Linked DNA regions of Homo sapiens: region 1 is linked to region 2. Evidence: fine-mapped expression QTL. A gene starts in region 2. The other region holds a variant in brackets. All regions are shown on one strand. Distances are between the middles of the regions.

Region 1 (4,405 bases), 360 kb after region 2:
AAATCTAGCTGCTTATCTGTTCCACACTTGAACCAGGGAAGCTGAACCTGGCTCAGAAACCATTTAACCATGCTAAGTGTTCTCACTTTAATTCATGACTCATGATCACTAAGCTCCAGTAAGCAATGATGCTCGCCAATGATATGATTAACCTATTCCATTTGATCTTCCACTCTCTAAGACAGCTATTCTATCCCTTCTCCTTTCTCCTCAAACTTCCAACTCCTTCTCTACTGCTGTCCCTCTCAGCTGATGGCTTTGCTTCTATTTCACTGAGAAGACAGAAACAATAAAAAGAGAACTTTGATAATCTTCATATATAAATACCTACCTTCATTAATCCCCATATCCTCTACTCTTTTCCCTATTCCTATGTATAAGCTGTCTGTGTTCCTAATGCCAGCCCTTAACTAGGGCTATGGATTAGAGTCCGTGATTCCTTATTGAGTAATTCTTCCCTTTCAGCAGCAGCATCTATTCCCCTCTATCTGAGTCTCTCCCAGCAGTGCATAAATCTGCTGTCATTTGTCTTGAATATCTCCTCTCTATAGCCAACTCCCTTGGAGATGTCACTCAGTCTCCTGCCTGCAAATACATAGTGATGATTCACAAATGTACGTATCTCTAGATCAGAACTCTCACCTGCACACCAGACCCTGGCTTCCTATTTAACGTTTTTACTTGGATATCTAATCAGCGCCTTCAAATTTAACATGTAAAAACTGTTCCTATTTTTCCCCTACCCCTATTAAAATTGTTAGTCTATCCTTCCAGTTATCAAACCAATAAATTCAGAGTTATCCTTGATCTGTCCTCCACAACTGTAATCCAATCTATCAGCGAATCTTGCAAGCTCTATCTTCAACATATCTATGCAGCACTCCTTCTCATTGCCCAACTATTACCACTCCAGTCTAGGCCACCATTAGCTCTCACCATTGGCTCTCAATTACTGTGGTAGCCTGTTAACTGATCTTCACACATCTACCTTCGTCCTCTTCAGTTTTTTTCTCCACAAAGCCAAAGTAAATCTGTTAAAATCTAACTCAAATCAGATCACGTTTCCCTAAAACCCTCCAAAGCTATGGTTCCCAAACTGTGTTCCAAGGAACCCTGGGGCCCTGCAGTGAACTCCCTGGGGTGCTTTGAGATGTCTTAAATTTTTCAGAGAGAAATCCAGAGATACTCAATATCCTTTGGATACAAGGTGAGCTAGATCACACTACATTTTTTTATGAAGTCATATCTTTGCAAAGCATATTTTAAGCATGATTTAAGCATATTTTGCTCTGATAAAAAGCACGTCCCTCTGAAAAGAAACAATGTGGAACAGAAAATGAGTATGGCAGTATCCAATCTGATTCCAAAGTTTGAGAGTCTGCGCTATAAGCAAGGGATGCAGACATCATATTAATAAATGTGATTAGTTAAGAATGAAATTAAAATGTTCTTCAATTTATGTGTTTTTTAAAAATAGCTAATAAGTTGTTAGGACAAATAAATACCAAGTTCTCTGCTCATAACTATTTAATAAATAACACTGCTAGGTCTCTCTTTTGGCCTAGAAGTATGATGAAAAATTCCAGATTAAGTGGCCCTAAATTGATTAAAAAAAAAAAAAAACTTGGTGTGATTAAAGAACTGAAAATTATCAGTGTGCCTGAAGCAGGGAAGAGTGACTGACAAGCAGTTTGGAGAGGGAGCCAGGGCCAGATCTTGCAGAACAGCAGAGCATCAGAAGCCATAGTGGGGAATTTTAATGCTATGCTAAGAGCAATTGGAGGCTTGAGGTTATTTTAAGCAGATGAGTAATTTGACCAGACTTACAATTTTAAATGATCAAGCTGCTCGATGGAGACTGTGTTGGGGAAAGATGAGAAGGAGAAGTGGAGAACCTATCAGGCTATCATCTAGTCCAGAGAACTTGGTGGCTTGAACTCTGTGGGGCAGTGGAGGTGGAAGGGAAGGGAGACCAGCAGTACTTTGTAGGTAAAATTTATAAGGCTTGGCGAGAGATTGCATGAAAGGGGTAAGGGAAGCAGGTGTATCAAGAATGACTCCTAAACTTCTGGCTTGAGCAAGTGGGTGCGCCTACCTGAAATAAAGATAGGGAGGAACTAGTTTCAGGCAGAATAGCACGGCTTAGGTTTATTTTTTTTTATTTTTATTTATTTATTTTTGGAGAGGAGTCTCGCTCTGTCACCCAGGCTGGAGTGCAAGTGGTGCTATCTCAGCTCACTGCAACCTCCGTCTCCCGGGTTTAAGCAATTCTCCTGCCTCAGCCTCCCAAGTAACTGGGACTACAGGAGCACGCTACCACGCCCAGCTAACTTGTTGTATTTTAGTAGAGGTGGGCTTTCACCATGTTGCCCAGGCTGGTCTCGAACTCCTGAGCTCAAGCAATCTACCCGCCTTGGCCTCCCAAAGTGCTAGGATTACAGGCATGAGCCACCATGCCTGGC[C/T]GACAGCTTAAGTTTAGATGTTTTAAATTTAAGATACTTATTTACAATTAAATTTAAAAGGTGATATCTTAAATTGTAAGTATCTTGGAAGATACTTACAATTTAAGATGACAGTAGGCAGGTATTTAGGTTTGAATATGAAATTAATATCCCTTTCCCTAAATATGGCATGACTGTCCATTCCCCCTCAGTCTTTGTCTGACGGAGTTATTCTTATCTCTAGCAATACTCTTAGCATATACAATCACATCCAGGCCCAACTCAAAGGCATCCTGCCAAGACAGCATATTAGGGGCTCCATCTGGAAGTGTGCACAAAATGTAGTATGCTGTTATAAAACCAGCATTCAGGGTGTCTAGATGGACGCAGGGACAACCATATGTTTTTCAGTTTCCACACTATTCCTTGAAAACAAACTTGCTTCATTGGGCTTTTGCCAGCCAGCCTTCCTAGCCCCTTCCAATTGCTCCTCCCTTAGGGTTGCACATTGTTCTTATTTCAATTGCTGTTGCTTAGGGTCTTACAGAAAACCAAGCAAACCACTAAAATATGACCCTGTTCCCCACTGACTTTGAATTTTACTGCAGCCTGGATCCCTCTGCTATAATGCTACAACTTATCAAGTCACCATGAATTGAAGTAGCTTAAATTAACCCGGAATTTGACACTCCCCTATTGGCACTGTATTTTGGACTGTCTGCCAACTATGAGTGCCAGTTTTTTCTACTTTGACTAATCATTCCACACTTTGGGGTTCTAGCATGCCTCACCCAAACCTGTTTTGTTGATAAAAGTCTCCATGTCTTTTCTCTTTCCTTCTGGAAACCCAGATTTGTCCTTTAAAATCCCACTCAGGCACCAGCAGCACCTTCATTTATTCTCTCTTGGGATGGTATTGTTAAACATATTAGAACTAAATATTTCCTCCACATTTCCTTTAGTTGTTTCATAGCATTTCTCTTGATATAGCAGGTACATACGTATTTATGGATTTTTTCCCTTTATGCTAGATATTTCAGTAATTTGGCCTCTACTAAATAAATCCCGCCATCATGTAGTCATTTGTATTGATTTGTGCTTATATACAGCCAACTCTATTTGCATAAATGACTACAATACACAGAAGTTTTGATTACTATTACAATTACTGAATTGCTTTCTTGTAATTGTGGTAGTAACCATTTTAAGGTTGATATTCCAATTTCTACATATGTTTAGTTTCTCTACCTATGTCTTACTTATTTCTATTAAATTAGACAGTTTCTCTCCAAAGCTACATATGTCTTACACTTATTTCTATTAAATTAGATGTGTGCTTATTAGACAGTTTAATAAAGCAGAGGAACAACCTCTGCTTTATTAAAACTTTCCATAGCAGAATGCACTTTCCTGCAGCAAGAATCCTTTGATCCACTTTGGACACATTCCAGCATATTGTGTAGCACCTCTGTTAAAATACTATTTTTGTTTTTTTTTTTGAGACAGGGTCTCGCTCTGTCACCCAAGCTGGAGTGCAGTGGTGTAATCATAGCTCACCGCAGCCTAGAACTCCCGGGCTCAAGCAGCAATCCTCATATATCACCCTTCTGAGTAGCTGGGACCACAAGTGCACAATACCACATCCCGCTAATTTATTTTTTTATTTTTTTAATACATATGGGGTCTCCCTATGTTCCTAAGGCTGGTCTCAAATTCCTAGGCTCAAGCAATCCTTCTACCATGGCCTCCCAAAGTGCTGGGATTATAGGCATAAGCCACCACACCTATCCTAAAATATTCTTGAAGTCATGCTTACTGTGCTACATCAATTTGTTTCAGCCCACAACTGAGGATCAATCTTAGAAATGTTATTTACTCATTTGCCGTAACTTATTGCCTTAATTACATATCACTTGCAATGTCATCCACCCTAAAGCTAAGCTTTCATGTACTGTCTGGTTCTT
Region 2 (4,405 bases):
ATTCTTTGATTGGTTAGTATTGTTATTCTCATTTTACAGATAAATGAATTGGGTCTTAGACACATTAAATAACCTGTGCAAGGCCACAAAGTAAGCAGCAGAGTTAGGATTTGAACCCAGATGAGCTCACCTTCAAAGCTGGCTCAGCAGTCTTGGTTCTCACTTTAGAGTCATGTGATTGCTACAAATTCTCTAAACTCATAGTTGGGATATTATGCCTTTCTGAGCTTGCATGGTATCTTAGGCATATTTATTTCATCATTTTAGTAATTTTAAAAATGTGTTTGCTCATCTAATTTTTACATATTTACATCACCTTCTAAAAACATCTCTTCTGTATGGGTAACTTTTTGTCTTTAGATCTTGAATGAGTTTTCACTGGGCACCTTTCACAAGAAGTTCAAAGAAACCCATCAAAACTAATGTTTGTTGAACATCTAGTTAGCAACAGGCTCTGGTCTGATTACTCGTCAACTCATACATTTCTCACAACAATGCTGTGTGGCAGATACCACCTTTATCTTCATATTAGAGATGATGAAAATGAAACAGTGTGGTAATGAGTTCATTCAGCATATACTTCAGGACTAGGATTCAAACCCAAGCATTTAGATTATATAGCCCATATTCTTAATCATGAGACTATACTGCTCCTCACACACCAGGACTGATTACATCTTCTCTGTCTTTATAAATTCTAGGAAAATGCATTTTCACAGAGTCTAAATTGTACTTCTATGAACTGTGACTCTGTTACATCATTTAGCAAGTCTTTAGTTTTCCTGTGACATTGGCATCTGCAACTAGCCAAACTTTTTAATATAACTTATTTACATAAAACAAGTGAATCTAGAATATGATAAAAATCCCAAATTTTAATTCAGCACATATAAAACTGTTAGTGGTACCCCCTCCCCTCACCCCAATTTGGAAATACCATATTGATGGTCTTCATTGCCTTAAACAGGCTCCAAGCTGTGCTCTTGTAAGACGCTGGACTTTAAATCATAACCTTGCATAAATTCAAAACCAAATAAAAATTTTAACAAGACTTTTTCCTTTCAATACTAACTTTTTTTTTTACTTTCTAAGTAAAATGATTTAAACATTGTCTATTTTTAAGAAAGAGCAAAAAATGTGTTCACGGCAAGTTGGAACAGTGTGCAAATGCACTGGCTTCACTGTTATCTGGACAGCAAAGCATTAAATCACAAGGAGAAAAAAGTCAGCATGTTCTCTTAGAATACAAATAGGTTAGCGTCAGTAAGAACTTTGTCCAAAAAAGGGAAAAGACACCTACCCAGAGAATAAATCATGCATATGAAACCTATAATTTTAAGAAGTATTTTCAAGAAATGATATAGCTGATAAATATGACTGTGAGATAAAGCACAGAAAAAGTTCATGTGACTTTTTTTAAAGTGGACCTTCCAAATGTGATCAGTCAACATACCCCACTTTTTATCTATGATTCTTACATAAGATACAATTCACCAGTAGCTATGGAACTCACAGAAGAAAGTCTACATAGATTCTCTCTATCTGTCTGTCTCTGTCTCTCTGGACCTCTCTGTCTCTCTGATTCTGTGATGCAACAGTACTCAACATTATTAGGCACATAAGAACCTTAGGTTAAAATATGTAAAAAGTCCATATACCCGGACATATAAACACTCGTGGTCGTTTGAGATTCTGCAGATGTACAATATAAAGCTTTCTCACTCAGAACTTAAAAAAAAAAAAAAGAATTCTTCTTACCATATATTCCATATTTGCTGCCGGTGGGAACACTTTGCCCCGAACTTGATTATGATAATCAAGAATGGCGATCATGTCATTCTGCGAAATGTAGCGCTTCCGCCTGGCTTTGGGGATATCCGCTGAATCTAATTGTGCTTTCAGAGCTGCTTCAATATCAGTGAAATTATTGGTTGGCGGGGATGAGTCAGTGGAATTGAGTAGGACGACGGTACTTGCTTCACAGAGAAGGGAGAACAGGAGTGCACTGCTGACGGCAGAGATTGCTATCATTTTGAGGGGTGGAGAAGAAGAGGCCACCGAGTTTACTTTGCTTTAAAGCAGAAAGGTAGAGTTAGGGTCTATGAAAAAAAATAGGGCCAGAGGGTATGAATTTACAAAGACATCATTTGGGAGCATTGCTTGATTTGACTTTCTTCAAAAATCCAAACAAATGTTGAACTCAAGCCTAGGAGATAACCTACAGTAGAATCTCTATTCATTTTTTAGTGTCATGAGGCAGACCCCTAAGAGGAACTTTGTATAGCAGAGAAAAATAAACAGCATGACCACTAACCCTAAAATGAATGTGAACCATTTGCCCCAAATGTCTGAACCACAAAATATATTACTGCATATTTTCAGTGGGAAATTTTCAGCAATTGAAATTCACCTGGAGAGTGAAGAAAAAATGAATCACAGGTAACAACAGAGAATGTGCTGATAATGTCTGCCAGACATATAGACACACCAAGTGATAGAACACATACAAAAAAGTCATAGTAATCCAATCTCATTTCTTTAAAAAAATGTGAGCTACTTTAAAATCAATGCATGCAATATAAACTTGTTGAGCTAAATAGCTTACCTCTGCACAATGCCAAAATGAATATATTGTTCTTCCAAAAATTTAAGGTTCTTTGCTATGTGGTAGCATGAACTCTTGTAAGAGGAGTGTGTCTTTTTACAAACTCTCTGAGAGCAAAGCTCTGCAAGGTTTGAATGCTGCTGGCTAGAGGAGCAGCTAACAGCTTTTATATGTCACAGTTTGCAACGTCCAGAAAGGGCAGTCTTTCTAAGGGTCTCTCTTAGCCAAAATCAAAGGGGAGGGGTTTGGGGTAGAAAAAAACAGTGATTGGGTGGCAACCTTTTTATGTGGGTGGTGAGGAAATTGAGTCACACCCACAGCTTACAAAGTACAAGCCATAAAAGACAAACCCCTTTTTCTCTGGGCTTCCACCTTTTCTGTGAGTAATTTCTCTCATTTTATGCTTTCTAGTTCCTGGTTCCCATACAAAAAAGAAGAAACAAAGACAAAAAAAAAAAAGACTGTGGGTTCATGAAAAAACAGACAGTTGAGTAACAAGCAGTACATTTTTTTAAGACAGTAAATGACATGGGAGCTAAAAAGAACAAGCTGATATTAAATCAAGAGATCAGCTAACATAGTTAATCTGGGTGGCCACAAATATGATTCGAGAGGGATGCCAGGCAAATCGGTAGTAACCAAACTATAGCATATGATATTAGGATAATAGATGCTCAAGTGGCTGTGTTCTCTGCTTCCATGTGGCTGCATTCCTGTGCTTTATATATTTCTTCTTCTCTCTCTTATTTTACCTTCTCTCCCTTTTTTCTTTCTCTACAGAGTGAGGTCAGAAATTACTTGCTTTTTACCTGCCTTGTATAAAATGTGAATAGAGAAGCTCATGGCAAATGACAGCAGCCAAGATAACATCTGTTTCAGGTTTAGAGCATATAGTTGAAATTTTAAGCAGAGAATAGCTCAGCCTCTCAGGAAATGTATTAGAGGGCATAACACAGAGGCCATGAAGAATTTTAACAGCAGCAGCAGCTGCCAACAATTAGAAGTGCCTTGTTAGGAGGATGTCACAGGGGCAAAGTCTATGTCAGGCAAAGCAAGAAGAAGAATGTGAACATTGGTGCTCTATAATGAAAGGACCCTCCCCAAAATGCGTCATGATCTCATTAACAAAATGTGGACCACTTACAGTCAGTAGCAATAGGAATCCTGGAAAACACACGCTCTTCAGTTTAGAAACTTACTTAACTTACACTGATTTTTTCCAGCTTGCTAATGTGATTGTCTCCCACATGTTTCAGCAGAAGAAATACTATGTGAATTTACAGTCATCAGAAATGATGGTCATGTGGCACACTGGACAGGCAGCCAAGTTTCCTAGGATATATTCCCAGTTGGATCACGAGTAGTATGTGTGGTCAAATGCATACTGTTTAACTCTTCATTGGTGCACCTAAAAATGGGAGAGAAAAGATTCACGTTCTATGGTGAGACAGACATCATCAAGTTCTTTAAGAGGGTAGTGAGGTGTACCAGAGGTGTCACTAAAATTCAAACTACAGTGATGAGATACAGACTTTATAATAATATATACCAAAGTCCAGGTTTTGACACATTTTGATGACTATTCAACTCCTAACTAAAGTGAAATCATTTTAGGAGAGCCATAGCTGAAATATTGAGAGCTTTAAACAAGGAATTAATACTAAACTTGAAAAGGCATAAACAGATATATAAACTCAGGAGGTGAGCAAGGATATTATGAAACATTGGAGCAACTAGAGGAAATTCACATGGTTGTTCACAGCTGCAGATCTTAACAAGTGGAGCTGTCCAACTAGGGTT

Which allele goes with the higher level. Positions count from the first base shown, and alleles are read on the strand shown. Sizes are in standard deviations (SD) of each study's normalised expression.
In carriers of allele T in region 1, the expression in anterior cingulate cortex of the gene that starts at base 2,747 in region 2 tends to be lower than with C alone (moderate effect, 0.46 SD a copy in GTEx).

Evidence for each region. PIP is the estimated chance that this variant, and not a neighbour inherited with it, causes the effect.
Region 1: its variant is the best candidate, but not a certain one, in a credible set for the expression of PI15 in anterior cingulate cortex (GTEx, PIP 0.60).

What each region holds. Positions count from the first base shown.
Region 1 is chr8:74,462,996-74,467,400 of GRCh38, reverse strand. It overlaps a transcript of GDAP1 not described here. Among named protein-coding and RNA genes, the nearest start is that of MIR5681A, 83 kb to the left of the region's middle. The variant C/T (reference allele first, on the strand shown) is at 2,463.
Region 2 is chr8:74,822,876-74,827,280 of GRCh38, reverse strand. PI15 (peptidase inhibitor 15) reads right to left here and starts at 2,747. Exons shown (of 6, transcript NM_015886.5): 1 at 2,606-2,747; 2 at 1,759-2,071. The coding sequence starts at 2,031.